Linked DNA regions of Homo sapiens: region 1 is linked to region 2. The links come from fine-mapping of genetic effects on gene expression. A gene starts in region 2. The other region holds a variant in brackets. All regions are shown on one strand. Distances are from middle to middle. Region 1 has its middle 57 kb from the start of WDR17. Region 2 holds the start of WDR17 (WD repeat domain 17).

Region 1 (15,840 bases), 56 kb before region 2:
AATGAATAGACTACATCAAGTCAATTATTTTGACTTTCCATTTCTGACAGCTTTTCTCCTGTGTGAGCATAGAAACAAGAGTTTATAGGCTCAAGTGGTCAAGTAGAACAGCAAGTGTTGGGTTTAGGAGAAAAATTTAAAATATTCCGGACCTGTCTTTCCAATGGAACACAACACTTAACAACCAAATAAAAAAAAGAGCCTGAAATACTCTCTGCCACACTTGGGAAAATGTTTTATCTTTCTTTTTTAACCTGAAAATACTCCTTCCTTTTCAGAAAACATTTAAAGACAGTCCTTCTTAAGACCATTTCCAACACTGTTTATACAAAGGCCCTAAAAATGGGTCCTTCTAAGACACTTCCAGGGGTCAAGCAAGAAGAGACTATGAAAGTCTTGATCACAGCTAACATTCATAGGCAAAAATGTCCTCAGCTTTCTCTTTTTTCCTTTCTTCCAAGTTGGCTACTGTCTATAAACTCCAGAAATTAGTAGTCAAAGCATCCCCTAACCCTTGAGCCTGTGGGAATACAGGAATTTCAACCCGAGCACGTCAGTCCCCAAGGCCTCCTTTACTCTTGGAGAAATCCCTCACAACAAAGGACAAGGGAGAAGCAAGGGGGAGGGGCGCCCAGTGGACTTGGCTGGAAGAAGTGAGCGGGCTGGGGTTGGAAGAGTAACTCGGGCTGCGGGCTGAACGCAGTCGGCAACCGCGGAAGAGCAGCATCTCCCCTGCGCCTGTGGATACGCCAGTCCAGGGATGGCGAGTGCTTTCTCCTCCCCAGCTTCTCCCTCGCTCTTCGAGGTGACTCGTGGGACCCTGCGTCCTAGTGCTGGGTGTGAATCGGCTATTTCACACCCAGTTCTTCCTCCCCTCCGCCACACGCAGTCACATTCCTGGAGCTATTCCAAGCTGCCTCCGCTAAGCACCGAATAAGCGGACCCTGCCTGGAAACTTGAGCGAAGCTGAACTGCGCCGAACTCCACCGTCCAGTGACCCGAGCCAGTGTGGACGCCCTTTTAATCACGCTGTTTACCCAGGTGGAATTTAGGAAGAATCAGCCTTCAGCCTCAACCTCAAACCTTTTGTGCAAATGGGCACTTCGTTTGGAAAGGGACTAGAAATTGTCCCCAGTCTGGCCCTGCACCAGCACCTTCCTCTGCTCAAACCTGTACAAAGTGGAAGTTTTAGGAAGTTTCCATTTCTCGTGCCCCGTTTCAACTTGCTCCCCAAAGAGAACATGAAAACGTGGGAACTCGGGAGGACAGAGATCTCCCTGTAATCGCCTCGCTATTCGGATCCTGGGTCTCTTAGTCTTTCTTTATTTCCCAAATACCGCCCCCAGCACGGTAGACCGGACCCCCAGGCTTGGGTCCTGGGGCCGGCGCAGAGGATCAGCGCCCAAGCGCAGCCCCCCACCCTCCCGACCCACTGTAAACAGTCGGGCACCCTCCCTCGCCTCCAGGTGCCACCCCATCGCCATCGCCTCTCTCCCAGAAAAAAAAGTCCGGAGACAAGAGGGCGGGGGGCGGGGGACGCCAGGCGCGGGGGGAACAGAGCTGGGAAGGACGCAGTCTGAGGCCGAGGAACATTCATTTTCTTTCTATAATGCCCATTCCCGAGGCCGAGCCTTTGGGCGAGGTGTACGCGCCCGCCCGCGCACTCACCCATGGCCCGAGGTCCTGCTTCTCTGCAGTCCCCAGAGGAGAGCGAGTGACCAGACGCTGCGCGGGGCCAAGTTCTCCAAGCCGCGCTGAGGCTCCTCGCGCCCTGGCAAGTGACAGCCTCGCCCCTCCCAGCGGAGACAACTCGCAGGGCGCCTGGCGACTCTGCGGGCGCACAGACCCCTCCCTCTTTCCACCTGCCTCCTCTGCGAGAAGCCCGTTTTCCTCCCCTTCACTGTGGGTCTCCTCCCCAGAGGCCCCCACCCTGCCCCCTTTCACTTTCATTAGAGACACGTGCAAAGTCTCTCTCCTAAATACATTGAATGCACATTACAGACACACACGTTGTCTCAGCACCCCACAACCGACTCGGTAGCCAAGATAATGATCTCTAAGTGGAGTCTGGAAATAGATTATTCCAAAAGACAGGTTTCATATGATAATTTTATGTTCCCTTGTCTTCTGTGTACCATTTTGTTTCTTAATGATAATAACATTAATAAAGACAAGAGGAAGAGAAAATTCTCCCTTTAATTTATCCTTTGTCATCTCCTCTTTCTTCTACATAAAATATGTTTCTGTAATTGGACAAGGTTATAAAGTTCTAAAAACCATACACTCAAACACACATGCACACACCCTGACATACACACACACACACATCATAATATGCAGAAATCACCTGGAAAATAAACAATTCAATCCAAGAGGCAGTTGATGAGGCTGAAAGAGCACAGGGCTTGACAGTTGAGAGGATGAGTTGTAATCCTGGCTCATTTCCTAATTTGTAAAATGAAGGATCTGGAAAAAGTGATCTCTAAGGTCTCCTCAAGCTAAAAAAAAAAAAAAAATTATATAACTCTATGGGTTATTGACCTAGTTCTTTCAAGAGTCATACTGGAGAAGTTATTTCAGTAAGTCAGTCCCCAAGGTGTACACAGCTTTTTCATGCAAAGCACACCCAAAAGTATACATATCTATGCTGTGAGCAAGTGGAAGAATAAAATAAAATGGATATGATTACTTACCTTGAGGAACATTGCTATCTAATGGGGAAAAGGTGATATGAAAAATAAATAACAATATTTTTAGCAGAATGCATGGATAAATGCAGAGCATATCATTCAAATGCCACATAAACATCTGCACAGCTCTTTCTCACGTAATGGAAGAGGTATACTCCTGGCAGGGGTGTGTAAATGCACTTCAGTTACATGGGAATACAGTTATTCTTATGGGAGGGGAAAGGAAGTAGTCAACAAAAATTAAAAGTGTTCAACATATCATTCAGAAATGCATCACCCTTCTAGAAATTGACTAACATGAACTGTGACTGTAGCAAAGCATAACACTAATACATTTGTTCAATAAATATAAGTTGCTGGCTCACACTTGTACTTCTGGCACTTACAGAGCCTGAGGCAGGTATATCCCTGAAGCTCAGGAGTTTGAGATCAGCCTGGGCAACATAGTGAGACCTCGTCTCTCCAAAAAAATAAACAAAAAATTAGCTTGGTGTGGTGGTGCACGCCTGTAGTCCCAGCTACTTGGGAGGCTGAGGTGGAAGGATCACTTTATCCTGGGAGGTTAAGGCTGCAGTGAGCCAAGACTGCACCACTGCACTTCAGCCTGGACAACAGAGTGAGACCGTGTCTCAAAAAAAAAAAAAAAGATAAGTGATAGATTTTGGAGATTGATTCATAAGCTCAGTTTTAGGATCACCACAAGCAACTTACAATCTATCTCCTGAAGACTTATTCAAAATAATATTTGAATTCTAAAAATTAGAACTGTTTTTTGTTTTTTTCCCATCGGATTCTATGATAATCCTGAAATACAAAATAATAATTATAACATAAACTGAGTACAGTGTGCTAAGTGTCAGGCATTGTACTAAGGGCTTCATATTAGCTAATATAATTCTCACTAAAAAAGGAAAATACTGTTATCCCCACTTTACAGATGAGGGAATTAATCCACAAAGAGATTAAACACTTGCCCAAATTCTCATAATAAATGGGAATGCAAAATTCATACCCAGGACAAAATACTCCAGAGTTCATGATCTTAGTCAGTTAACCACATTGTTTCTCAGTATCCAACTGGTTTGCCACATGCTTGAGAAAGATGGTGATATCTTCCAACAATAAATATAATTCATAATTTTTTTTTTTTTTTTTTGAGACAGAGTCTGGCTCAGTCACCCAGGCTAGAGTGCAATGGCGCCATCTCGGCTCACTGCAAGCTCCACCTCCCGGGTTCATGCCATTCTCCTGCCTCAGCCTCCCGAGTAGCTGGGACTACAGGTGCCCACCACCACGCCCGGCTAATTTTTTTTTTTTTTGTATTTTTAGTAGAGATGGGGTTTCACTGTGTTAGCCAGGATGGTCTCGATCTCCTGACCTCATGACCCACCCACCTCGGCCTCCCAAAGTGCTGGGATTACAGGCGTGAGCCACCATGCCTGGCCTAATTCATAAATATTTTTAACATTCCCAGTAAAATATATGAAATTTAGAATACACTAAAGATACAAATCATCATATACTGGCTTTTAATAATCAAAATCATGATGTTTTCTTTCCTTTGCCTTATTATAAGTGAATAGATCAAAATGTTGATGTTGAATTCATTTATCTTACAGTGATG[A/T]TGTAAATGGTGTCAGTATCCTAGATCTCAGGTATAGAGAGGCCATTATCTCCCCTGAAATCTAACAAGTTACATAATTTTATATGGGATTCAATAAACATATAAATTAATTCATTATCTTACTTAGTACATTATTTTTTTACTCTAATTATCCGGTATTTCTGCTTTCTCATTCCTGTCACCTAATTGTCCATCAAGTCCTAAGGTTCTGTTTCCAAAATATTCTTCCCATTCATCCCGCATCTTCAGTTTCATTGCCTAGACCACCTTTTAGCAAGTCCTGTGGAAATATAACTAACACTTCTTTTTAAAAACGGAGATACTTACCAACCATGGGACTCAAAATTAAGGCTTTAGCTAAACTTGTAAAATTCTGAGATGAATATAAATTTTTCTTTTCTTTTCTTTTTTTTTTTTTTGAGATGGAGTCTCGCTTTTGTTGCCCTGGCTGGAGTGCAATGGCATGATCTTGGCTGACTGCAACCTCTGCCTCCCAGGTTCAAGCGATTCTCCTGCCTCAGCCTCCTGAGTAGCTGGGATTACAGGCATTTTTTAGTAGAGACGGGGTTTCACCATGTTAGCAAGGCTGGTCTCAAACTCCTGACCTCTGGTGATCCACCCACCTCTGCCTCCCAAAGTGCTGGCATAAGCCACCGTGCCTGGCTAGAAATTTTTCATGACATAACCTTGTTGAAGCCAAGGGAAGACTTCCCCTTTACTCTCTGAAAGTTCACTGAAAATCAACTGAGCAAAGATGGATAAATAGGAGAAATGGCATACAAATTTATTAATGAGCACAGAGAACCATAGAGTGATTACCTCAACCCCCAGTGGGGTAGCAAATCTTATATATTCCATCTTGAGGTTACAGAAAGAATTGGGGCTTTTATCATGGCAAAATAGGATACGGTGGCAAGACAGCTTATGGGAGGGGGAGAAGAGGAGCCCGGGCTTGCAAAGCTGGTCTTTCTATGCAGATGAAACCTTGCAGGGCTCAGCCCACACCAAGAACACAAGGTGAATGTTTCTTTCAGACTTTTAAAGGTGTCAGACTCTCAGTTAATCTTTCCTATATCCAGACAAAGGAAGGTCTCAGAGAGGGCCTGGCTGCATCAATGCAGGTTTTCTCTACTGATGCGAATCTCCCCCCACAAAAGGCAGCTTTTCAGCTATTCTTGAATTTCCAGCTTTTCTGAATAGTTTTCTTGAAATATGTCAAGAAAATATATTTGGAGAGGAAATATTTTAGTTTCCTTCTGTTCCCCTTTGGAAGTTTTTCTTTAAGAAAGTTTCACTTATTAAAGGCAAGGTTGATAACTTTGGAAAGATGTGAGTTAAAGGTTGCTATTTAGGAGGCAGGCAAAGGAGGAGAAAAACAAGTTAGGATAAGCAGAAAAGAACAAATTTAAATATGTTATCTCATATCTTCTCGAATCAGCCTCTTAGTCCTGAGAAAAGTTCAGTTGAGTTAAACAGCAGGGTCCCATTCCAGGAGGCGGCATGGCAGATGGGCTTGACCTCCATATACAGTGCAGACAAACAGATCTTTAGTAAGAGGCATTTCTGTAGAAACATAAAAAAAACAAAGATTAATGTCTGGAGTAGTCTATAAACTAATTTTTCTAGCATCTCTGAAGCATCTTTAGATGGCAATCTGACAGATTTTTCTGGATTGTAGTTCGAATCAGGTATTCAAATGAACGTTCGGCAGAGTCCAGACATCAATAGGCATGAAGACTGTTTGTATGTAAGTTTCTCTAGTGATTTCCCTGAAAGTTTATATCATGTTATCTAGTTTTAGTTTGCAGAGCTTTAAAAAAAAAAGCATGTTTTTAATTTCTAGTGATTTCAATTTAGAAAAATGAGAGAAAAATTTGAAAACCTTAAAGACTTGTAGCCAGAAAATAATTCAGAATGCAGTCCAAATTGTAGGCAAATAATAAAAACTTAAAAACAATGGACAAGGCTAAAATCCAATAACAGGCATACTATAGTTTTCTTCTGAAACATATGTTTCTCTCTGTAGTCCCCTAGGTCTACCAAAGATAAGACATAGTAAGACCAATTTATTTGCAACATAAGTTTTACTCCTATTGTAATTGGCCTAATTATTTGCACAAAGTGCAGTAAGAACAGTGATTGGCTATATGACCTTTTTTAAAGTTGGCTTTGCTGGAACTTTTACATAAGGAATCTCACATTCGATTTTTAAAAACCTCCCAAGGCTGGGAAGCCAAACCATGGATTTGCTATGAGACTGTACCCAATACCTGTATGAACTGGGTACATTCCCCTTTTCTCAAGGATTCCAAAATATCTTGAGGTTCCTGAAGCTGCCAAAAAGTGACATTCTACTTGCTGCAAAGTCAGGAACCTTGTAAGAGAACCATATAGACAAGCTACCAGGCCAGTATTTACAAGGGTTTTTTTTTTTTTTTTAATCAGCTCTAGAAAGTCAACCTCAATTCCTCAAAGTAGTAATATCTGAAAATATGTCATTCCATCCACAGCCTTGGTAAAATAGTGTCTACAATTGTGTATTATTTTGGGAAAAAACAGATTCTTATTTAATTTATGCAAATTACTATGTTGCCATAAAATAAGACTACTCACAAATAGTTTCTAAATTCTAGTGACACCAGGTAGAGAAAATGGTAAATGTTTCCACTTTGCTCACAAAAGTATACTTTACCAATTACTGTAAGCTATAAATAGTTCAAAAGAAAAAAAGAGTTTTCTTGACTCTAGAAAACAAAACAAAAACCATCAGCTATATTTCAAATTTTAAAAATCATAGAAAAATCATTCAGTTCTCTATCAGTTAAGTCTTACATGACTAACGTTTGTTCTGCTTGATGTTGGGTTAGCAATCTTCATGAACTCATTAGTTTTTTCATTAGACTTCTGGAAGTTTTTACCTAGTCTAATGGTACGACCTTCAAAGTTGTCAGAAACCTGTATTTCTGAGAATATTTGGCAATGTCCTTTCCATGAATTTCTTTGAAAAATAAGTACATTTTGGACTGTAACCAATTAAAAATAAGCACATTTTGTACTGTAGCCAGTTGTAAACTACTTTTTGAGAAGACTCAAAGTAAAACAATCATTGTCTGAGGATGACAAAAGATACAGAATAGCCATGGTTAAAGAAGCAATTGACAAGGAAATTTGGTTATTTTTGTGGCATACTGCAATTTAACATAATTATAATCATAACTGATATCATGTACCAAGATATATCAGAATTTTAGGAATTTCATACAATTTTGGAACACATTAATAACACATTTATACAATTATAACTCAAAGAAGAGTTAAGCACAATTTCTTATTTGACAATATTTCTGTATGATTTTTACACATCACATAAGCCTCATATGTCTCTCTTGGACTTCCAGGGGTTCTTTATGGAATATCCAAAAGTCAGTTTGAGGTCAAAAAGACTTAATTTTAGAATTTAAAATTTGGTATTGGAAGTTTGTCAAATATCAAAGGTTTAAAACACTTTATATTAAAAAAAGAAAGTGTTAAAATATTTGATCAAAATAGGATCACAGGTCACTGTAAATAAGTTATTCATTTAGCCAAATTCATAATTAAAAGATTTCAAAAGCAAAACACTTCACTCTTTGATAGAGAGGAGGTTCAGTTTTCCAATCAAAGTACCTAGTAAAGACAGCATGAGTCAAACTCTCCCTGCTACTTCTTATTTTTTGCAGTTTATTCAAAAGGTGAACAAAAATCTTCCATTATACTATCTCTTGCCAATACTACACGAAAATCATATTCAAAAGAGAAAACTAAAATATATCTTTGCATCAGCATTGTTAATGTTAGAGCTAATTTAATAAAATACTATAAATAGTTCCATTTAATCTCAATCAGTTTTGACCACATAAGATTTGTATAAAACTTTTATAACAAAAATTTTTTCATTCTTTTTCTTTCCCCAACTTTCTATATCCATTTAGTTTTATCTATTATTTTTTCCCTTCAATTTTAAATAACATTTATATGGCCTCTGAACTAGACAAAAATTAATTTACCTTTTCTTTAACAAAACCACATTCTCACACCTTTGTTATAACCTTCCCCACCCAAAACACATTGAACTTTCCTTATACATTTTTCATACAGAAATGTTTCTCACATCTGGTAGTTTTAATTTTATATACTAATTACAATGTTAACTCTTAGTAACCCTAATTTTCAGGGAAAAACCTTAGAAGTTAGCAATTTTAATTGTTATATACCAGACACAGTGCCCAGGACCTTTCAAGACAATTCCTGGTGAATCCAACTTCTTTCAAGGAGGAAAGACCTTTCCAGACAATGTCTAATGAATCCAACTCCTCCCTGCATGGCCATGAGGCACAGCTGGGTCCGGTAGGATGGGGTTCAAGTGCTGTGCCCTAGCCCTCACTGTGACCAAGTGTCTAAACCCTAGAATCTAAAGACTCAAAACCAAAGAAATAAGCTCGCAGACAAATTAAGCAAGTATCAAATATATCACAGAAGAAACCATTTTTTGGCCTTAAAAACATGTAGAAGAGACAGTATAAATTTGTCTGTCCAATAGATCCAGGCAAAAATGTGTGAATTATATGTAATACCTACAATTCTGAAGACATTCTAATTGTATTTTACTAACAGTTTTTAAGCCAGTTTTATTTACCAAAGATTTCTCATGTCACATGACCTTGAAAAGCACTGGGATTTAATCTAGGCATGAGTGACTATGGGTCATTGAATGAGCATTTTATGTTCCAGCCAAATATCATTTCTACATTGCCAATGATTTTTAATTCACTGAGGGAGAATGTTCAATAAGAGGAAAGGAACACTGACAATGGAGAATGGGAACACACAAACATTTAATAACTGTGGACAAAAGGAGTTCATGCAGAGGAGTGCAAAAAATAATCTTAGGCTAGGAAAAGAATCCAGAGAAAGTCCTGTAGAGAACGTTTCAACAAGAAAGAAGTGTCAACTAGATAAAACAGAAAGAGCGAAGAAGACGAGGACTGGCAAGTTCCCTTCGGATTGGTGGTTATGAAGTCACTGGTGAAACAGTAGCAAGAGTATTATGGAAAAGTGAAGAGCAGAGAGATAAAGAATAAGGAAACGGGTGGTAGAAAAAGAGTGTGGACAACCTATTTACAGTTCACAGTGAAGGAAGGCAGAGTGGGCAATAAGTGTCAGAGAAAGTTTATTTATGAAAGAAAAAGAACTGTATGTTTCATATGTTAATGCATATATAGGTTTCAATCTTAGAGATCTACTTCTTAGAGTAGAATGAAGAGATACTATCTGGAACACAGGAGGAGGAATAAGCCAGAGAGAACAGGCAAAATTGCCTAATCCTCTGAGATAGAAAAAGAAGTAGAGAAAGTGAGTGTAAAGAAAAAAGAAGAAAGATTTTTATTTCAGTATGGAGCTTTGGAGCAGAGGGCTGATAACCTCAGGACCTCATGGAGGCCTGATAACCTCAGTATTCCGTAGGTATGTACTAGGAAGGAGATGTGCTGAGAGAGAACAAATTGGGGCTGCAGCTCCACTTAAGAAAATTAATGAAGTTTGTTACAGCTGCTGTAGTGAAGAGGAGAGGGAGGTGACCACGGTATAATAAAGAAACATCAAGTAACATTGAAGTCCAAGCAGAGACTGAATCTAAATTTATAGAGACACCAATCTATAACTTGACTATAGGAGAGGATAAAACAGAAAGCTGAATTTAAAGAAAACTGAGAGCATTTGTGAGTGTAATGGTAGAGCGGTAGGAAGAAGAAGGAGGTAAGGCTGATGGCAAAAACTACAAAATGAGTTAATTCATCTTGGGTCTAAATTAGAACAGGAAGAAAGAAGACCCCAGGACAGTAGCTATGGACTGTGAGAGAAGAAGGGGACACAGTACTGAAAAGATAAAGGAAGTTTAAGAGCAGATTTGGCGTAAATAAAGCTTGAAAGATGGGGATAGACAGAAGTTGTTGTTCAGCTATTGCTGTATTAGACCTTAATATTTCAGAGGCTGAGAAATTTGGAGTGCAGAGAGATCCAGGGAAAGACTAAAGATTAGGTTTGTAAAGTTCAGCAGAAGTGACAGTTCCTGCTATTGAGGCAAGTCTTTGAAGACAGGTGCTGGAAGAATTATTAATAAGGATACTACAGTACACCACAGTGATTATATGGATTGCAAAGAAAGAAAAAAATGTCAAAGTCCAATTTAAATAAGATAATGCATTAGAAAGGCTGAAAATTTTAAACAGTTATAAAAATGTTAGCTGCAACTATGAAAATTGCTGAAGGGAATAAATGAAAACAGTCGATGTATACCATAAATATGAAGCATAAATTTTCATAATTTATATACGAGTAAGGACCAAGAGGAAACCATGGATCCTTGAGCAGGGTAACCAATGATAAAAAAGATGGGGAGATCAGGCTGATTTTCCAGGGAGTGGAGGTTCCATCTACAAGACTCAGATCTTTTTTGTGTTTGCTTTTTGTTTTGGTTTGGATTCGTTTTTGCTCATTTGTTTCAGTTTTACAAAGACTGAAGTGGTTGTTTCACAAAATATATATTGTACAGATAGTACCCTCAGGCCTTATTTTCCCAGCCAGAAACACCAACACAACAGCTTCCAAATGCAGTCTCCTTTACAATTCATTAATTTTTGTTCTATTCCTAGGATGGCCTCACTGGGCTTTGGTTTCCCTTGAGGAAAGTGATTTTCTTTTGTGGTTTGCAGTTGAGTCACAAGAGAATTTTGAAGGGTTTTGAGCCTCCCCGTTGCAAAGCTGTAGGTAAGTGTCTTGTGACAGCTATAGCAATAAAGCAGAGTGGTTTTCCTTAACATTTAAATGCAATAATTAGCATATGTTGTTTTAAATTGTGTGTGTGTGTGTGTGTGTGTGTGTGTGGGTGTGTGTGTGTTTTATATTTACAGAACCATGTTCTCGAAGCAGTCCAGTCTCTAAAGTTTCACCAGGTGGGGCAGAGTGCCAGGCCTATGACTAGGGCCAGAGGTCTCTCCTCTTGTCTCTCTGATGAATACTGGCAGTTCCCCAGGCTTACCAGTTATTCTGGAGATAATGCTTTTGAAGGCCTCAAAGGTGCTGAATATCATCTTAATTTGAACCCCACAGAAAGAGTTTGGACACCTCCATTCTTCACTGCACAAAGCTCTCTTGACCAGGCACCTGGCTGATCTCTGGCATCTCGGTGGGCTACACGGAGCTCATGGTCTTCATTCTCCAGGTAAAACCAGGGAGCACAGCTTGAACTCCTGACATTCTTTCTTGATTTTATCACTGCCTCTCCTGCCTCTGCTGCCCATCTTTTTATGTCTGATATGCACTGCTTTCAGCTTTATGCTGTTATGTTTCTGGCCAACTGGAAACATACATATCTGCAGATCAATGGTGAGGAACCTCCCAGTGCCCCACTGCAGGGTCTGGCTGTTATCAGAAGAGGCTGGGGGTCTCATCCTCAAGCATATTTTGCTGGTTGTGCACCTTTCCGAACTGCCCAGAGTGAAGGGATTTTCATCTGGAGGAGAGACCCTGGAGGAAATCAGTTTCAACTTGGGCTCCACCAATGCTGCCAGCATTGTGGGTAGAGAGGGAGGCCACAGGGCCATACTGGAGGGCTATGCTGTAAGGAGGTGGTCTTCACCTCTAGGCAGATTAGGTGACCAGCAGGCACTTTCACAGAGCCACTGGCCTTCCACTCTGACTCCTGGTTCTGCCCGGACCACTGAATTCTTGTGGCACTCTGACTACATTTTTGAAAAAATTTAATGAGTTCATGTGAATATTCAGTGATTCATGGATTGGGTAGCAGCAGATCACAAGTGGTTCAGTGCCCCACAGAAGGGGTCATAAGGGGACTTTTTAAATAAATTCAACTTTTATTTTAGATTCAGGAGTACATGTGCAGGCGTGTTACACCGGTATATTGTGTGATGCTGAGGTCTGGGCTATGAATGATCCTGTTGTCCAGGTAGTGAGCACAGTACCCAATAGATGGCTTTCAGCCCTTTTGCCTCTAATATATGTCTACTATATATATAAACATTATACATATAAATATATAATATATATATTTTTTTTCAGCCCTTTCCCGTCTAGTACCTGTCTACTATACCCATCTTTATGTCCATGTGTACCCAATGCTTAGCTCTCACTTACAAGTGACAACATGTGATACTTGGTCTTCTGTTCCTGCATTAATTTGCCTAGTATAATGGCCTCCAGCTGTATCCATGTTGCTGTAAAGGACATGATTTCATTTTTTGCGGCTGCATAGTATTCTAGTGTATATGTAGCACATTTTATTTAACCTATTCACCACTGATGAGCATCTAGGCTGCTTCCATGTCTTTGCTATTCTTAGAGTGAGAATTAAAGGTGGGAATGGCAGGCTCATTGAAACTCTGCCGCTTTGAGGTGGCAGAGATCTCATGCTATACCTTGCAAGTGAGGAAGGAGTACAGCTGTTGGTGGGATGAGCTGAAGCCGAGGCTTGAGGATAATGGGGTAGTGCTCCATCTCAGATCTCTCGTAGCCCAGGAGCAGATGGATGGTCATTGCTTTGGCATAATTCTGACCCATTAACAAGCTCTGAATCTCTTCGCACGTATAAGCCATGGGCATTATCTCAGTCTGTCAGGGATTCTTAAAAGCAGGAAGTGGTCAATGTAAGAGTTTAGATTTCAGTTCCTCCTCGTGGTCCATGTTCATCCACGGATGCTTCATGATTTCCTCTAAAGTGCCTCTCCTGCGAGAGTTGAGGACAAGAAATTTCTTGAGCAGGTTTTCACACTCCATGGGCATATAGCAAGAAATACCAGATATTCTTCTCAATATCTACTCTGGCAACTCCTTGAAGTTCTGTCTATCACAAGGCAGCAGGGGCACACTGAGCAGCCGATAGAGGATAACTGCCAGTCTTTACTCATTCACTAGCAGCTGTTGTACTTTGGGCCCTGGAAGAGCTGTGGGGCAATATAAAGAGGGCTGCCACAGAGGGCAGCTAGCTTGTTGCCAAAGGTGAATTTGTTGTGAAGCTAGCCTACAATGTCAGCTGTGCAGATGTTCTGCCCACAGGTCTCTAAGGACCATACACCTCTGGTGGTAACACTGCACAATAGGCACTTCATGGCAAAATTCGCCTTGTGCTTTTTTCTCTTTCATGCTGCCATCAGCCACCAGGTAATGGAACACCCCCTCCTCCACCAACATACTCCACAATACTGTAGAGGATTTTCTTAATGTCAATCACTTCAGATAATTTCACTATGGTGGGTTGATTCAAGGCCTTCTTGATTTGGTTTTTCTGGAACAGTCACAGGAGGCTGGGGGAGTTCTGCTGAGTCTTACTGATGGTCTTTGCAGCCACCTCTTTCCCAGTGAAAATGTGCCACACCAATTTCACCTTGGTGAAGTTACCCCCACTGATGGAGCCAGTCGACTAAGGAGCCAGTCGTTGCCATTATGGGTCTCTTCCTGAATAGAGATGGCTGAGAGGCACTGCAGCATGTTGGGCTTATAGGCAAGTTGTCACAAAGTCAGCTTACAATTGGGAAAAGCTGGTGAGAAGCTTGGTCCAAATCGCATCAACAGAAACTCAGGCCCAGAGTCTACCCAATGAACTGGTCATTGAGAGGAATCAAAACACAACACCAAACAAAAATAAAAAGTACCAGAAATTAACAATAACTAAACAAAAAAATGAGAGAAATTAAGAAAAGAAAAATGAGAAAAAGACTGAATAATAAAAATGAGAAAAATAAAAATGAAAAAGGGCAGTGAGAAAAAAGAAAGTAAGAAAATAATAAAAAATGAGGAACAGAAAAAAACAGTATAGAAGAAAAATTTAAAACAAGCAAAAGAGAAAAAAAGCCAAAGAGATAAAAAGTTAACTTTGGTCAAAGTCTCTCAGGTCATGGAAAACCAGCTTCCTGAGCTGGAAGCACCAAAGTTTAGACCCAGAAGTTGTAGGTTCTTAGAATTTCATAAAAATAGCTCCTTATGCAGGTTATAGCAAGAAATGAACTATCACTGGTAAGGATAATCCAGAGTGGTTTTCTTACATTTTGGTTTTGGAACACATTTCTCTTAAGAGGGGGGTTGAGGTGTTCCTAAAAAGCTTTTAATCTGAGTTATATTGATCAATATTTACCTCGTTAGAATTTAAAACCTGCAGAGTGTTTCAGTGACTTTTTCATTCCTAGTTTGGAACTTACAATAAACTTTGGCTTTTAAAGAGCTCATAGTATCTACATTTAAAATATATAATTTCTTTCTTTCTTTCTTTCTTTCTTTCTTTTTTTTTTTTTTGAGACGGAGTTTTGCTCTTGTTGCCCAGGCTGGAGGGCAATAGTGTGATCTCAGCTCACTGCAACCTCTGCTTCCTGGGTTCAAGCAATTCTCCTCTCTCAGCTTCCTGAGTAGCCTGGGATTACAGGCATGCCCCAACATGCCCGGCTAATTTTGTATTCTTGGTAGAGACGGGGTTTCACCATGTTGGTCAGGCTGGTCTCAAACTCCTAACCTCAGGTGATCTGCCCACCTTGGCCTCCCAGTGTTGGGATTACAAGCATGAGCCACTGTGCCCAGCCTAAAATTTATAATTTCTTTTTTAAAAACTCTGAATGGTTGGTCTCAAAATGACGTCACAACTTAGCTGACATCATGATACTATACAAAAATGTTCCATTGCATAGGACACAATCAGATATACTTAGGTATACATTATTAGGATTTTTAAAGCTGAGGGGAAGATAGCTTCCATCATACTCTCATTTCTTATTTAAAGCTTTGCCTTTCTTTGGAGAAAATTCCTCCCTTCCATGAGATAGATGATTCATTTTGTTCATGTCAGTATTTTCAAATGTAGAGGTTGCAACTGTCAGTTGAGAAAGCAAGTTTCTCTTTTTCTTTTTTCTTTTTTCTTCTTTCTTTCTTTCTTTCTTTTACTTCTTTCTTTCCTTCTCTTTCTCCTCTCTCTCTGTCTCTTTCTTTCTTGCACTTTATAGACTATTTAAAATAGTAGTTTAGGTTCTCAGCAAAACCGAATGGAAGATATGGAGAGTTTCCATATCCCCCTACCCAACACATGCATAGGCTCCTCCACTATCAACATTCCCCATAAAAACAGTTCATTAGTTACAATCAATGAACCTACATTGACACATCATTATCTTCCAAAGTCCATGGCTTACACTGTGGTTCACTCTTGGTGTTACATGGTCTATGGGTTTGGACAAGTGCATAAATGACTTGTACCCACCATCATAGTATGCAGAATAGTTTCATTGCTCTAAAAATCTTCTGTGCTCCACTTATTCCTTCCTCCCTCCCCACTAACTCTTGGCAACCACAGATCCTTTTACCAACTCCATAGTTTTGCCTTTTCCAGAATGTTATATAGTTTTAATCATACACTGTGTAGCCTTATAGTTAAAATCATACAGTATTGGCTCCTTACACTTAGTAATATGTATTTATGGTTCCTCCATGTCT
Region 2 (16,050 bases):
CCATCTCAATAAATAAATAAATAAATAAATAAATAAATAAATAAATAAATACAAATATTCATTTACATGACATACAGATTTGTGAGGTTTGGAATTTTCATTTGAACTGCTTATAACATCTGCTTGATTCCCTCATATATGTGTAAAATGCTTCTAACTGGGGAAATGACATATTGATTGAAAAAGAAATCTCTCAAAATTTAACCATGTTTTCATGAACTGGAGAGACAAGTCCCTTTATGTAACTAAAACGGCCATACTAAAATGCTCTAGCAATGAAAGAGTTAGAGAATACTTATAAATTAATCCCTAAGGATCTTTCCTCATGATCTCCCTCTATATTTCAACTTTAAAATAAATTATTATTTAATGTAGAGGTTTGAAAACCTAAATATAATCATCTCCTTAGCATTAATTTATCAAACAGAAGGTTAACATTTTTAACATTCATTTAACAAAGCAATTTATCTGAGTGGCAAATATTAGACATTTATTGAATTACTTGCTTATTTACTTAGGTACTGAGGCCACACTGTCCTTTTGAGAATTTTTTTTTACATTTCAATATTAATTTCTCCAGAAGCAAATTTGGGTGAGCTGCTTTCTTATTTCTCTTTCATTCCCCTAAGAAAAACAAAAGTAAAATATAGTGGTGGGGTCAGGATGGCATAGGTACAGGGTAATGTGGAAGGTCACATGTAAGAAAATATAACATAATTTTATTAATTTAACCTGTTCTGCTCCTTGAAAAAATTCTAGGTTATAAAATCCATTGCTTGCCATCCAGAAAAACACCATGCAACACTTACTGCTTCAATATTTCATAAAATATATATTTAGGGGTTTTTCTTTTTTTTTTTTTTTCTTTTTGGCAAGATGGCTATGAATTGGGAATACAATAACACAAAGGAAATCCTCTGAGATTTACAACTGCTTCTAAAAAGCTATGAAAATTTGCTCACTCTTTGAACAGGATTTTATGAAGGCTAGGTTTTTACCTATCATTGTTTATGATCTTACACTTTTTAAAACAGGTGAAAACTACCCTTCAACCTGGTGTCACTAAAAGATTAAAAGTTTGGATGAAGAATTAGTGCTGGCAAGCATCCTTAAAACAAAGAAATAAAAACCAGTGTCTTGGGGCACAAAGTCTTCTGAAATATCTTCAGCAAATTGCTTCATGTGGGACTCCCGTTCATAGCAACATATTGCCTTGTTTCATAGCAAAATGGCCTAAGTCATATTTTCTAGAACCAGATATCTGAACTTTGCTTTATTTTTAGTTTGGCTTAGTCTTTTGCATGGTTTCAGTCTATTGTATGTACTTCTTCCATTCTATTTATAAGGCTTTGAGAAATTTTATTTAAATGCACAGACAGTAGTATATACATACACACACATATATGAATCGAATGCCCATAATGGAGAGTTTTAGATTTAGGGAGTCAGAATGTCTATCTCAAATAAATGTTGTATGTTCCTTATACCAAAAAATATTTCCATATGGGATATACATGCTAAAAATAAATTATTATTTAATATCAGTCTGATAAAATTCATGATATAAGCTCAGGTGGCTGTCCAAATAAACAAGAGTAATTAATTTTGCCATTATTTCTATTAACTCCCAATATTTAATACTAATATATGTTCAAATAGCGTTTTTCATGTTTTTAAAAAAAGTAGTTTCATAATTTTTTTTCAGTCTGATGCACTAATTGTATACTATTGGGATATTTGAATACTAACTGGGGAAAATTAGTTCTTTGTGAAGGTCAAAAAATAACTATTGAGATAAAATTTGTATACAGTGAAGTGTGGTTTTGGCATAAATGTGATGATGGTGGATTCAAATCACAGCAGCTGAGACCATCTATGCTTTATGATCCCCACAGCTGGAAATGAGTAGTACATTCCGAAGGTCATGACAGAGAGACTGGGGTGGGGGCAGAGAGAGAGAGTAGATGAATACATAGACAGATGGCTTTGAAACACCAAGATTCATAAGCATTCCTGTGTCACACTTTTAGATAAATTCAGATGCTTTCTTATGATGTGGTAGTAACCGTTTAACAACCTGCTCTCTAAAAAAAACAATGTATGCGTATATGTATGTAAACAAATTTATTATAAATTTTAATGATATAAAATATGTCCCACACAATTTATGTATGATAATATAATACATTATCTTCTTTATTTTATATTCCATATAGCAAAGTGATTTTCACAGAATACTTTCATTAATATTTGCCAAACTCTTGTATTTGTATTGAAATTATGGTTGCAATTGACATTAATGTTGATTTTTTTATGTTAATGAGTAAGACAACAAAGAAACAATGAAGGCATATATAGAAACTTCACTCATTCACCATTGGCCTAAACAACTTATTAGCAGGATTGAATAACAGTTTTTGAATATTAAAAGAATAATTCCTCAGTTTTTGTGCGATTTCTAATGTAACAGTAATAGACACAACAAACTTTAAAGTTAAATTGCATTATTAATAGTTTCTCCATCATTTTCTTAAGTTTATACCAGAGACTGCCGAACTATTATAGCCTTAAGTTGAATACAGCTTGCCTCCTGTTTTTGTAAATAAAGTTTTTTTGGAACACAGCCACATCCATTCATTTATGTATTGGCTATGACAGCTTTCACACTGTCATAACAAATTTGAGTAGTTGTGACAGAGACCATATAGCTCTAAAGTCCAAAATATTGAGTATCTGGCTCCTAACAGAAAAAGTTTTCTGACTCCTGAAGTAAACCAGCATTTACCAATAAAACTTTCTGGTATAATGAAAATGTTCTTTACCTGCTCTGTTTGATACAGTAACCACTTAGCTACATGAGACTATTGAGTACTTGAACTATTAAGTACTATCATTGAAGAGCTGAATTTTTAATGTTATTTCATTTTAATTACTTTAAATTTAAATAGCCATGTTTTGCTAGTAGCTACTTTATGAAGCAGGGTAGGTCGAGACAGTTAACAACACGACGAATCATACCCTGATTTCTCACATTTGCTGAATTTCAAGGTGTAAATATGGAGTCCTAATAAGGGAAAAGGAGTCAGGCTGGTGGGACCAAGGGAAAGGAAAGAGAAAGCAGATAAGTTATAAGCCTACCTTTCTTCATGATTCAGGACTCATAGCCCTCCTGCACAAACAACTCACAACCTTTCTGTGCCCAGCTATCACTAGACCCTCAGCTGCTGGAAAAATGCAAGTTAGCTCACTGCAACCTTGATATTACAAATACTGCACAAAGCCCTTCTCAGTACACAGCACAAGCACCATTGTATAAAATCCCCAGCAAATTTTGACTCCTTGAAGTCAGCTCCTCTATTGCTGGTCTGCCCATTGCACGTTTGCGAAGTATTTTCATACCTTCTCCAATAAATCTGCCTTTTTATCTACAACTGTCTTGGTAACTTCTTCTTACCCTAATGCCACTGGCCTAGATAGTCATTGATTACCCATGATAGTAAATACATCCACTATGGCCAATTTCAAGCTATCAATGTGACATCACTGAACAAGTTAGGAAGAAATGTACATTATTATACAGTATTTGTACCATACAGTTACAATAAACATAAATAACCTCAAAAGCATAGATAAAACACTAGTAAATAATTAAGAAGTGATACATTTTGAGTATTTATTACTTCGATTTTTAATTTAATTAATTTAATTATACATTTATATAATTTAATTTTAAGAATAGATGTGTTTAATAATGAATAGCAAAATTCCTAAAAAATGTTAACAGTTTTCTCTCAAACCAGTGCAGTCTGGCTTCAGCAGATGACTGAGTGAAAACACCATGCTTTTTATTACTATACATAAAATCAATTGAACTAAAAAAAAGGTAAGTGAAAGAGAAAATCAAAAGGGTGCATTAGTCTGAAACTCAGTTTGTGAAAATGGATATACTGTCAAAGGCAAGGCATTTTTAGTTGTACAAAGAGAACAGTGTCACAGAAACTAACAGAGTAGGGATTTTTTACAGAGTCAGTGGATTCTAAGGGAATTTCAAAGAGGATCCCTCTCAATTAATATGCAAAATTTATGTAAAGATATAAAAACATTTTCCCGGGAATAAATTAACATTCAGGGAGGTTGGGGAATTTTGTTTTTGAAAATTTGAATATTAAAGTTGTTGAGTCTCAGTCACAAATTCAATAAGCACATTTGTGGCTTAAATATAATGAGTGTAAAGCTAAAACCATAAATCTTTGGATCCCAAATCTGAAATAGGTAAGAGTAGATGAGAATTAGCCTAAGCTGAAAAATGGAACCTAAATGTCTCATATGAGGCTAGGCAGGAGCCAAGATCATCACTTTGAAACTATTTGAAGAAAAAAAATTCATAAATTGAAATATGGTACTGAGAGTCATACAGAATTCAGCACAAAGGGACAAAGAGATTAAAACTATGAAAAGACAAGTGATAAATACATTTATGGGTAGAATTAACAACTCTCATATAGGTTCAATTAAAATTTTAGAAGTGAAAAATAGAATAAATATTCAAATAATGATGGAGAATTTTTACAACTGAAGATCTGGACTGATATTTGCAATGGGTATATCTAACACATAAACACCCTGAATATTTTAAAACCTAAAAAATCAATATGGAAAAGTTAAATATAGAAAAAAAAGGTAGTGAACAATTTATAAACTTAAAAAGATGTGTCATTCCAACAATTTCAGAAAGCACAAATTTAAATCATGTAGAGATATTACTATACATTCATTAGATTGAAAAAAGTATAAAACTCTGATGTTGATGATATGGAGCAGGAAAAGAGTTTCACTACTTTTTGCAATAGAGAAAAGTTCACACACTTATATGTTCATCAATAGGTAAATAATGATGATGCTATATTTTATATTCCTAATATAAGATATATATCATATAAATATATATACTTATATGTACCAATATTATAAAATTTTAAAATAAATGACAGAAAATAAAGCAAATTTAGAAAGTATATTTATCTGTTAGATTAGCTACATCTGGTTAAAATGAGAGAGTAATCAAATGACAAGAGAAAAAAGGAGAACTTCACTACCTATAATTTTTTTTTTTTTTTTTTTTGAGACAGAGTTTTGCTCTGTCGCCCAGAGTGGAGTGCAGTGGCACAATCTCGGCTCCCTGCAACCTCCACCTCCCGGGTTCAAATGATTCTCCTGCATCAGCTTCCCGAGTAGCTGGGACTACAGGAGCTCACCACCACGCCCAGCTAATTTTTTTGTATTTTTAGTAGAGACGGGGTTTCACCATGTTGGCCAGGATGGTCTCAATCTCTTGACCTCGTGATCAGCCCACCTTGGCCTCCCAAATTGCTGGGATTACAGGTGTGAGCCACCACATCCAGCCAATTTTTTTTTTCAAAGACAACGCAAATATGACAAAAACAAAATTTATTAACTATAGATATTTATTGCATTATTGTATGTACTTTCCTGTTTAAATATTTTACAATTTAAAAACAATTTTAAGAATTCTCTCAATATTGATCCTCTGGGCACAGTGGCTCATGCCTGTAATCCCAACACTTTCAGAGGCTGAGGCGGGCAGATTGCTTGAGGTCAGGATTTCGAGACCAGCCTGGCCAGCATAGTGAAACCCTGTCTCTACTAAAAATACAAAAAATTAGCTGGACGTGGTGGCACATGCCTGTAATCCTAGCTACTCAGGAGGCTAAGACAGGAGAATCACTTGAACCCTGGAGGCAGAGGTTGTGATGAGCCAAGAACATGCCACTACACTCTAGCCTGGGCAACAGAGTGACACTCTGTCTCAAAATAATAATAATAATAATAAATAAAGAATTCTATCAATATTGATCTAGAGAAAAAATATCAAATTTTCTGCAATTATTAAAAAAATAAAAGAATTCTATCAATATTGATCTAGAGAAAAAATCTCAATTTTCTGCAAAAATTATTGGTTAATTTAAGCCATTTTTATACCTCAAGAAGACCAAAGAGTAATAACCTCTAATATATTTCTTAATAGAAATAATAATATTTTGATATATTTAAATATATCTACCTTAATCATCAATATTGTGGCAATAGATTATATATCTATTTAAAACTATTTCAATTTTTAAGTGTTTTTACATAAAGTACATTTTTAAGTATTTAGTTCACTATTTACTGCACATTAGTTTAAGTTTTTTTTTCTGTTATACTTGTTTCTGCTCTCTTACCATTTTTACATTAAAAAAAAGTGTGAGAGGGCTTTTCAATTAGGTGAATCTAAAGTCTTTTTGGCTAAATTTTTCTAAAATTTTAGTTTAAGAAGTTTTTTTCTTGTTGATTTCTCATCCAGAATACATATTAAAAGGGCATTTGCCACATTAAATTGCATTGAACTTCCTTTTCAAAGCCATTGTACTCATAGAACATGTCTATCTATCCTTGAAGATGAATTTGACTGGAGTCATTTGGCTTCCCTAATCGCTCTGCTTTTAAATTTAATCATGAAGAACTCCGGGTACTCAGTGCTAAGAACTAATGATTGCCCTGAAAATGTCAGTCAGCCTAAGTGACTGACAATTTTTTCTTTGTGAGGTGAGTATATGACATTAAATACTGGTTGAATAAAAGAATAAAAAATCAGAGTAAAGAGATCTTTGTTTTATAAATTAGGTATATTGTTCCTCTAGATCTAATCTAACTATAGTTGTGATTATTTAAATCTGTTCAAAAGGAATGAACTAAATTCTGGTAAAGGAATAAGAGTCCTGAACTGGGAGACCGGGATCACTCTATCAAAATCTGCTGCTAATATGACTGGAGATTTAAACACCTTCATCTTTAAATTATGAGTGCACAACTAGATAATTTCAGTTGTCTCATTCAATTTTATGTTTCTTTCTTTTTCCTTTTTCTTTTTTTTCTTTTTTTTTTTTGAGACGGAGTCTCACTCTTGTCACCCAGGCTAAAGTGCAGTGGCGCAATCTCCGCCTTCTGGGTTCACGCCATTCTCCTGCCTCAGCCTGCCGAGGACCTGGAAGTACAGGTGCCCGCCACCACGCCCAGCTCATCTTGTATTTTAGTAGGAACGGGGTTTCACCACCACGCTGCCGTCAAACTCCTGACTTCAGGTGATCCGCCCACCTCGGCCTTCCAAAGTGCTGGGATTACGGGAGTGAAACACCGCGCCCGGCCGGTTTTTTGTTTCTTAACTGGAGAGCTGGAGCCATTATGAGCAAAATAAACATAAAAGATTTTTTCCGTCCAACCGATGGACTAAGCTAGACGTTGTATCTTCAGCATTTTCTCTTCATGTACACCATTGACTATTCAGCACTATACCTAGCAAATATCAGTCATAAATGAAAACTATAGTCTGTTTTCACAGAAATGTTTCTTGTGATTTTCCCTCTTCGCTATTCTTATTTTCATTGTCTTAACTCAGGTCATCAGCATCTTTTCCCATGAACTACTGAATTTTTCTCCTAACAGACCATGTTCTTCATCTTCCTGCATCCCATGTATCTCCAATGTTTCCAAGGTGTCTTTCTTGATGAAAAAGCACTGATTTTATAAACTTCAATCTCTTCCTTTGGTTTAGAGGTTAAAGCCTAACCCATATATAGAATTCTGCATCTTTCCCAATCAAGTTTTCTTATTTTTCTAGTACAGTCTTTTGCCAATTTCCATCTTCCTTCTTATCTTTGGATTCACATCCCCAACTCCGGAGAAGGCAAAAACATCAAATTTATTTACATCAATCGTTTATTTTTTCCCACTTTATGCTTTTGGCAATGCTGCTCCTGCTGCATAGTATACACTTTCCCCTTTTTATCAGGTGAAATTCTACCTATTTATAAGTCCCTGCTCAAATACTAATCATATTGAAAGCTTCTCTGAATACCTTGGAAGAAAAAGTTCTGCCTCCCTCATCTGAAATCATCTCATAGCACTTTTATGTAACCCTATTTTAGTACTTAACACATTGAGTTATATTTAGTTATTGCCCTTATACTTTCTCTGGTAGATTATGTGCTAATTTCTTTCTTTCTTTATCCATCTATCCATCAAGAATTAATTGAAGACCTGCTATTCATCAGATACTTTGTTAGAATATAGGGGACGGAGTTGTAAGAACTGATTTTAGCTTTAACAAGTTTATTCTTTATATGGAAATCCAACATTTAAGTTAATTTTAATTTACAATATAGAATATTGAGTGCTGTGGTAGGTACTCGTCTCTGCAGAGAATATTTTGGAAAAAAGGAGCATTAAAATCTACTGCATAGGAAGGTAAGAATTAGGCCCAGGGACTTTCTCTGGTTGAGGTCGACCATTCATTTATTAACTATTTAGAGTGGAGTATAATTAATTCTCGATAGATGTCATTAAATACACTTTGTTTCGAGTACGTCGAGGCTTATTCTCTCTAGTGTGTTGGATAAAGGCCACAGGTAGTGAAGATATTTCAGAGATGTGAAGAATCCAGTAGGAATGACAACATCCAGCACTTCCATTCAACCAGATCCCACAGGGAAAATGTCAGTTTTGTGAAGGCAGATACATTAACCACATACAACTCGATTAATATAAACAAATAATCTTATCCATTGAGCTCTCCCACAGACCTTCTTGGGCCCAATCAGACAATAATGAAGTGCAGGCGAGACAGCATTCTGCACTCACATTCCAGGCACTGGTTCAAGTCCCTCCTCCAGGTCCCTCAAGAAAGAGACAGGATGACTGACTTACTGTATATTTGACTCATTTTCCTAGAAAGTGCAGACTCGCTATAAAATGTGTTAGGTGGTGAGAACGCTGATGGTTCACCGTTTTCCTCCACTTTCAGCCTCAGTGCAAACCCTCTGCCCAAAGCCTCGCTCCAGTACGGAGGAGCTGCGCCTTCAACACACTTTCTCTGTTGCCAGGTAACCACTTCTCCCTCAGCCTAGTCTCCAAGGGTCACGAGCCACTTCCGCCTCCCCCTCTCGGGCGCTCCAATCAGCGACCTGTGTAGCTGTCACGTGGGCCTCTGGGGCAGACCCTGGAGATCGGGCTCGCGGCGCCTTCCATCGTGGCTCCGCGCTGGGGCTTGCGGAGCACGCTTCCCGCCCCTCGGAGCCCGCGGGCCCGGCCGCCCCGCCCCCGGGCGCCCTGAGCGAGCAGGCGGGGAGGGCGGGGAGGGTCCGCGCGTTGGTGGTGCTCGCCTCGCAGCTGCGCCCGCCGGCTTCAGCACCTTCCGCTGTCCGCCGCTGCAGCCGCCTCCTCCTCCAGGTAAGAAGCCGGTGGGGCCGCAGAGATACCAAGGCAAGCTCAGGATTGATGTGGGTGATGCTGGAACTGTCGCGGCGTCATGCGAGAGGGGCTCTGACCTCCCTGTGATCGCGGACCAGGGTAATGTACGTCCTGCAGGGCTTTGCACACCATGGTGCCTGATGAGATAATCAACTGAGTTTTAGAGCCACACACCTGATTCTTACAAGGCACAGCAAGCAGCGAATATTTATGTATCTAAACTACCATTGCAGTGTAAACTGTGGACATTTCGAGGGACATTGTTTTATTTTTATGGCTATTAAGTATATGTCTAGAGCCTAGGTTGCTGTTCTCATCCCTCCGCCGGCCAGACACTTCTGTATAGATCATTTACCCCTTTGAAGATGGACTTATTAGTAGGGTTGTACTAAGAAAGGTTTGAGTAAAAAGGAAATGCGTTCCAGAAAAAAGACGGTATTGGATATAAGGCAGGTATACTATTTATTAAGTAGATCGTAAAATAGAATCTTTGCTGTCCTCCCCTCTCCAAAATCAGACTTGTTTTGCTTGCAAAGATTGAAAGGAACAAACAATTTAAGGAGACTTTTTAAATATATTAATTAAAAGCAATTGATTCGAATGAAAAGTAATGAAAAGTCCGACCATGCATCAAAAATAAATTATTTTGCATATTAATATATACATATATACTATATATATTTAACAAGGGTTTGAAGAGAGATACTACATTTCTGAATCTTTCATAAATACCCTTTAGAGAAAACTATCAAAAAAACACAAGTTCGTTGTAAAAGGATACGAAACGGCCAAAGCCCAACAATGTGAGATTATAGTTGCCGTTCTTAGCACTCTAATAACATTTCTGCGTTGTAAAAATTAGAAAATAAATGACAATGAATTTATGAGAATTTATAAATTTGAACTCCACAAGAGTTTAAGCATTAATTTATTTGTAGATTTATGCCTTATCATTACCCTGCTTGCCAGGAGCTGATGCTGGGCGGGTGGTGAAACAAACTCTGTGGAGAAAGCACTCTTACATCCTTTTGAGATTCTGCCTCACTGGCCTAAGTGTTCAAGAAAATGGATATAGTTATATCTAACTGTTTTGAAGGCAGACGTCTGAGATAGGTGGTCTGAGAACCTTTCCCCTCCTATCATCTAAAATTAAATATAGTTATTAAGTGCTTTTGAAAAGTTGTCAATTCGTTAATATTTTGGGAAACATCCTTTACTGGATTGTTTGGAGATTAATGTTACAAATGGTAGCTTTAGAGTTCCTGGGAAGTTTTAAAGCAATGACTTATTTCAAAGGGCATATACGGAAAGTAAAGCTCTTGAGTTCTGCAAACGTAATTATGTAAAAATAACTAGTTGAATGTTATTGTTTACATTGTTCTGACTTTCTCTTGTGTTGATATTAATAGAACTGCTTAAAAAACTGTGGACATCTGAAGAAGACGTTAAATATGCTTACTTGAAAGTTTTAACATTCTTTATTCTTCTTATTTCTAATGATAAATAGTGGTGTTCTAAATATTTTTAAGTTACCCATTAGTCACATAAATAATTCCATAGATTAGAAAGCCATAAATTAATTTAGGCCAGAAAAACAATGCTCCCAGTAGAGGGGAGACTAGGGCTAGATTGCTTTTGTTGTTGCTGTTTTCTACAGACTCTATCTTGTATCCTTTAGTCTGGGAAAGGAGGGACAGGGCCAGTGGCAGTTTTTTAATTACTTGGAGAAGTTTAAGAACAGGTTTCTGTTTGTTTGTTTTATGGTTTTACCCTGATGGATACTAGAAGTCCAACATGAATGATTAGGTTGTCACTATTAATGAAATGTGTAAATTCTCCAGAGTACCTGATTTTGTTGCCTAAATACTTTAATGACGACTAAAATGTAATTCTGACAGTTTTGAAGGATTCACATTTTCATCCTATATTCCAGAATTTCTTTGAAATCTAACATATGCAAGAAAGGTAACGCTTTATCAGATTACTGAATTGTAATACTGAATACTTAAGAGTTTACCCAGCTATTCATGATAATTATGTATATGGAAGCATCATTGCTACTTTTGACCACTGCTGAATTATCTCATTTTACATTTTGTATACCTCTTCCATTGAACAGATGGAAATATTAAAGTGAAGTCATGTATCTTCCAGTACGTCTTCAGGAACAGAGATTTCATCGAAATTATATTAATTTATAGAAATCATATGAGGATAGGCTGCGTGCGGTGGCTCATACCTGTAATCCCGGCACTTTGGGAGGCTGAGGCAGGCGGATCACCTGAGGTGAGGAGTTTGAGACCAGTCTGGCCAACATGGTGAAACCCCATGTGTACTAATAATACAAAAATTAGCTGGGCGTGGTGGTGCACGTCTGTAATCCCAGCTACTTGGGAGGCTGAGGCATGAGAATCTCTTGAACCCAGGAGGCCCGGAGGTTGCAGTGAGCCAAGATTGCGCCACTGCATGCCAGCCTGGGCGACAGAGCAAGACAACGTCAAAAAAATTAAAGAAAAGAAAAAGAAAAAAAGGAGGATATTGGAAGGGATTTTTTATTAATTCATGCTCCTTTTCTTTTGTATCAGAAACATATGAAACTTAAGATTTGGTTGGTACTTTTTGATACCCAAGACTGTGCTTTATCCTGTTAAAATAGTATCGTGATTATTCTTTCATTGTTGATAAAACTATTCCTTGAAATTTGTGAGCAAGAAATTAGATACGGATACCTGAAGAGAATTTTAGAAATTCTCCCAAAGAATCTACTCTATAAGGAAACAAAACCTAGAGAAAAACATTTTTCTTATTTGAGTTTACTTAAAATGTTCACGAAGGACTTGCAACTTTGGTAATAAAAATTGGTAGAAATAATATAAAATGATCAGCTTTGTATAGTAAAAGAAAAATTCCCATCACGATTAATTAGAAAGATTTGAAAAGTTTCCATGCTTAAAGCATGGGCTGTCACATTAGAAGGCAGAGTTCAGGTTGTTTTCATCTGATTTCAGTGACTAGACAGGTATAATTTCAGTGACTAGTCAAACATTTCAAATAGGCTAGATTTTGTAAGAAAAAAAAAGAACTTGATATTGGAGCCACAGCTGGCACCTGCCTTCCAGATGTCACATTATCAGCTACTTGAGGAAAATAATTTATATATATATATTGATAAAAGTCTTACTTTTTATTATGTTAAATGTACTTACAAAGTATTGTTCAGTAAGCTGTCTTATAAAATTCTGTAATTCTACATTCTAATTTAAAAAATGTACTGTAGAAATAGACAGTAATATAAATCTATAATTAAGATAATACAGGAGGTAATTTAACAATGTTATTTGCTATGATAAGGATGATTGATAATTGTCATGTTCGGATAAATTGTAGCAAAAGTGTAAGAAATAAATTTCCATGTGTCAGTGAAGATGTTATAACAGTCAATACTTGTTTTGTACATTCAAATGTTCTGAGATGGAGAACTCAAGATTGAGGTCCTTAAACAATTTTTCTTATGCTTAGGTTTATTGTTTTCTTCTTCCAGATTCTTCCCATTTTTTTTAGTTGTAAGCATGTACCAGTGTCCCAGGCAGACTCATTTACAATGATGTGTAGTAAGTTCAATTTCATATCACGCACACAGAAAACTTACTTTCAAATCGGAAAGTAGAAAATAATTTTTATTACACAAAGCACTCGTGTTTAACATGCTATTAAAAAAACCCTTCATTACAATACAAACAGCTCCACATGGAGTCTCAAAAAAATGAATAGTTGGTTAATAAGAAATAGCTAACATTTAATTAAGTTTGATTCTTTAAGATAAAACATTATGGATGACTTTTAATGAAAAGAGTTATGCAACATTTTATTTTTAAGGTAAACAGGTTTGAAGGGGTCATTTTGGAATTTATGATAGAAGGATCCTTAAGACCAGTTACTCTAACACCGTTATTCTGTTAATGAGGACACTAAACACATAAAAATTATGTTCTCAAAATTAATAAGGGAAAAGCTGGCTTATGTTCTACTTCTGAAGCTTTACTTGGGAGTACCATGAACTACTAAATAAATGAATTTATTCCTGAAAATATAATAGTGGATACGTTTCGTTAACATTTATATATCAATAGTAGCTTTTTGGGCATAATGTCTCACCTTCAAAATTAATTCATTAGCTCATGTTTAGGGGGAATTTTATGTTGGCTCAGAGCGTAATATTTGACTTAGGCAGACTAATATGTAGATTACCAACCTATCAGATCTGTGCCTGGGCCCTACCTTAGGTAATACAGCCCTTTACTTAGCAAATTAAAATCAGACTTATTTCAGGCCTCTGTCAATATATTGAATGCATATATTGAAGAAAGTTTCGAGTTTAGTTAGTTTATGTAGATCCTTTTTTCCCTTTTTTTCCACTTCTTTTTTCTTTTCTTTTTTTCTTCTGAGACAGGGTCTCCTGCTGGAGTGCAGTGGTGTGATCATGGCTCACTGCAGCCTTGAACTCCCAGGCTCAATCAATCCCCCCACAGCAGCCTTCTGAGCAGCTGGGACTACAGGCACGCACCACCACTCTTGGCTAATTTTTTTTTTTTTTACTTTTCGTAGAGAAGACAGCTCACTATGTTGCCCAGGCTGATCTGGAACTCCTGGGCTCAAGCGATCCACCCAACTTGGCCTGCCAAAGTCCTGGGATGCATGAGCCTCTGTGACTGGCCCTGTTTTTGTTTTTGTTTTTGTTTTTTAATATTCAAGCTTCTAAGCATCCATTTGATTTTCTTTGCTGGTTTTCCCAAACTGACTTGCCAAAATAATTTTTAACACCTTTTCCCAGAACATGAATATGCCAGCATTAAGTGACTTTCTGCCCAATGGGGAATCCTAAGTTTGATAGACAGATAAGCATGAAGGCTCATCCTGCTTCAAAAACTCACATACAAAACCCAACTCACAAACCAGGTTAATTAGAAGGGGAGCGAGGGTCCTGGGGATTACATAGCAATTTATGGCAGAGTTCCTCAAGTCTTTTTTTTTTTAATGAGCAGTGATTCTATTTATAAAAATAGGGGTATACTTTTTGCCACACCCTGTTGAAGAAATAATCTTGTATCTTTTTATGACAAATATTTACTTATTTCCTTCCATAGTGTTCTCGCAATGGAATATTTACTTCAAAAATTCTTAGTTTATAATTGAAAATATGTGATTTCTCCCTTTTCTTTTTTCTTTTCTCTTTTTTTTTTGAGACAGAGTCTCACTCTGTCGCCCAGGCTGGAGTGCAGTGACACGATCTAGGCTCACTGCAACCTCCAGCTCCCGGATTCAAGCAATTCTCCTGCCTCAGCCTCCTGAGTAGCTGGGATTACAGGCGCAGGCCATTATGCCCAGCTAACTTTTTTATTTTTAGTAGAGACGGGGTTTCACCATGTTGGTCAGGCTGGTCTCAAACTCCTGACCTCGGCCCACCTTGGCCTCTCAAAGTGTTGGAATTACAGGCGTGAGCCACCACACCCGGCCTTTCCCTTTTCTATTATTCTTTGGATACCTCTCTCAGAATGGTCACAATGAAAGTATATGAATGAGCTTGTTGAAGTAGATGTGGATTACTTCTTTGATCAAATCAAAAATTATTTCCATGTTGCAGCACAAAACGTTCTGTAATCCTCTAAGCATCTGGGTAAGTCTAGTTCCAGGATTCAAATCCATATAATTTTCATTTTCATGGCTAAAATGGAGGAAAGTATAAAAATATATGTAAATAGATAATAAAGGTAACTCCATTCATCTTTCTGTATCTTTGAATCGGTGTCTTGCTCTTTTGATGTTCAGTGTTTGGTCTTAGATATAACTCCTGTGTTTTGTTGACCAAGATGGAATTCATACTGGTATAAGTGGTCATTTCGTGAGTCCAAAGTAGAACTGCCATAATGACCTCATTCTTCTCTACTTGCTACCTAATCCAGGATTTTAATGTAGGCTAGTACTGTACTTGTGACCTATTTTGTCTTCTAAGCTTTTAAGAACATCATGATTTGACATATATTGGGAATGCTTAGATAACACTGCCTGCCAAGCATGTAAAAGGTAAACTCAGAAATGCTCAGGTAAACTCAAGCATGTGAAAGGTAAACTAGACATTTCAGAGATTAATCTCAGACAGTAGAAGATACCAGAGACAATTTTTCTTCCAACTCATCTTTATAGACATTGAACTAGGCCAGTAGTTCTTAAGGCTTGCTGTGCATTTAAATTGTCTGAGAGTGATATTGAAAAGCTCCACTCCAAGGTTCTCATTTGTTGGAGTTGGGATGTGATTCACAAGTCTGCATTTTTAGCAAGTATCTAAGTTAATTCTGATGCGAAATACTTGAGAGCCACACTTTGAGATACACTGATTAAGAGATTTTTGAAATCCTATTTATTCTTGATAATGTATGTTGCTATCTATCACAATGAGAATAATGCTCATTTAGAATTATGGATACAAGAAGAGCTCAAGTTAGTGGGCCAATGGATGATTTTTTTAAAATTCCTTTCATTTTTCTGCATTTTCCAGATGTTTTCCAGAGAGCAAGCACCTATGGATTATATGAGAAGACATATTTTTTGCATAGCTCCGAGCACATAGTATATTTACACTTTAAACACTGACATTTCAACAATGTGTTTTTAGGGTTTTATTTTTTAGTAATAAAGGCAATACATTTCCATTACAGAAAAATTACACAATTCAGAAGAGTATAAAAG

The links. PIP is the estimated chance that this variant, and not a neighbour inherited with it, causes the effect.
Region 1: its variant is the best candidate, but not a certain one, in a credible set for the expression of WDR17 in whole blood (TOPMed, PIP 0.84).

The regions. Positions count from the first base shown.
Region 1 is chr4:176,000,641-176,016,480 of GRCh38, forward strand. It overlaps a transcript of GPM6A not described here and the pseudogene MARK2P4. Among named protein-coding and RNA genes, the nearest start is that of WDR17, 57 kb to the right of the region's middle. The variant A/T (reference allele first, on the strand shown) is at 4,315.
Region 2 is chr4:176,056,795-176,072,844 of GRCh38, forward strand. It overlaps WDR17 (WD repeat domain 17), which reads left to right and starts at 9,047. Exons shown (of 29, transcript NM_181265.4): 1 at 9,047-9,285. RefSeq lists a silencer at 8,923-9,302.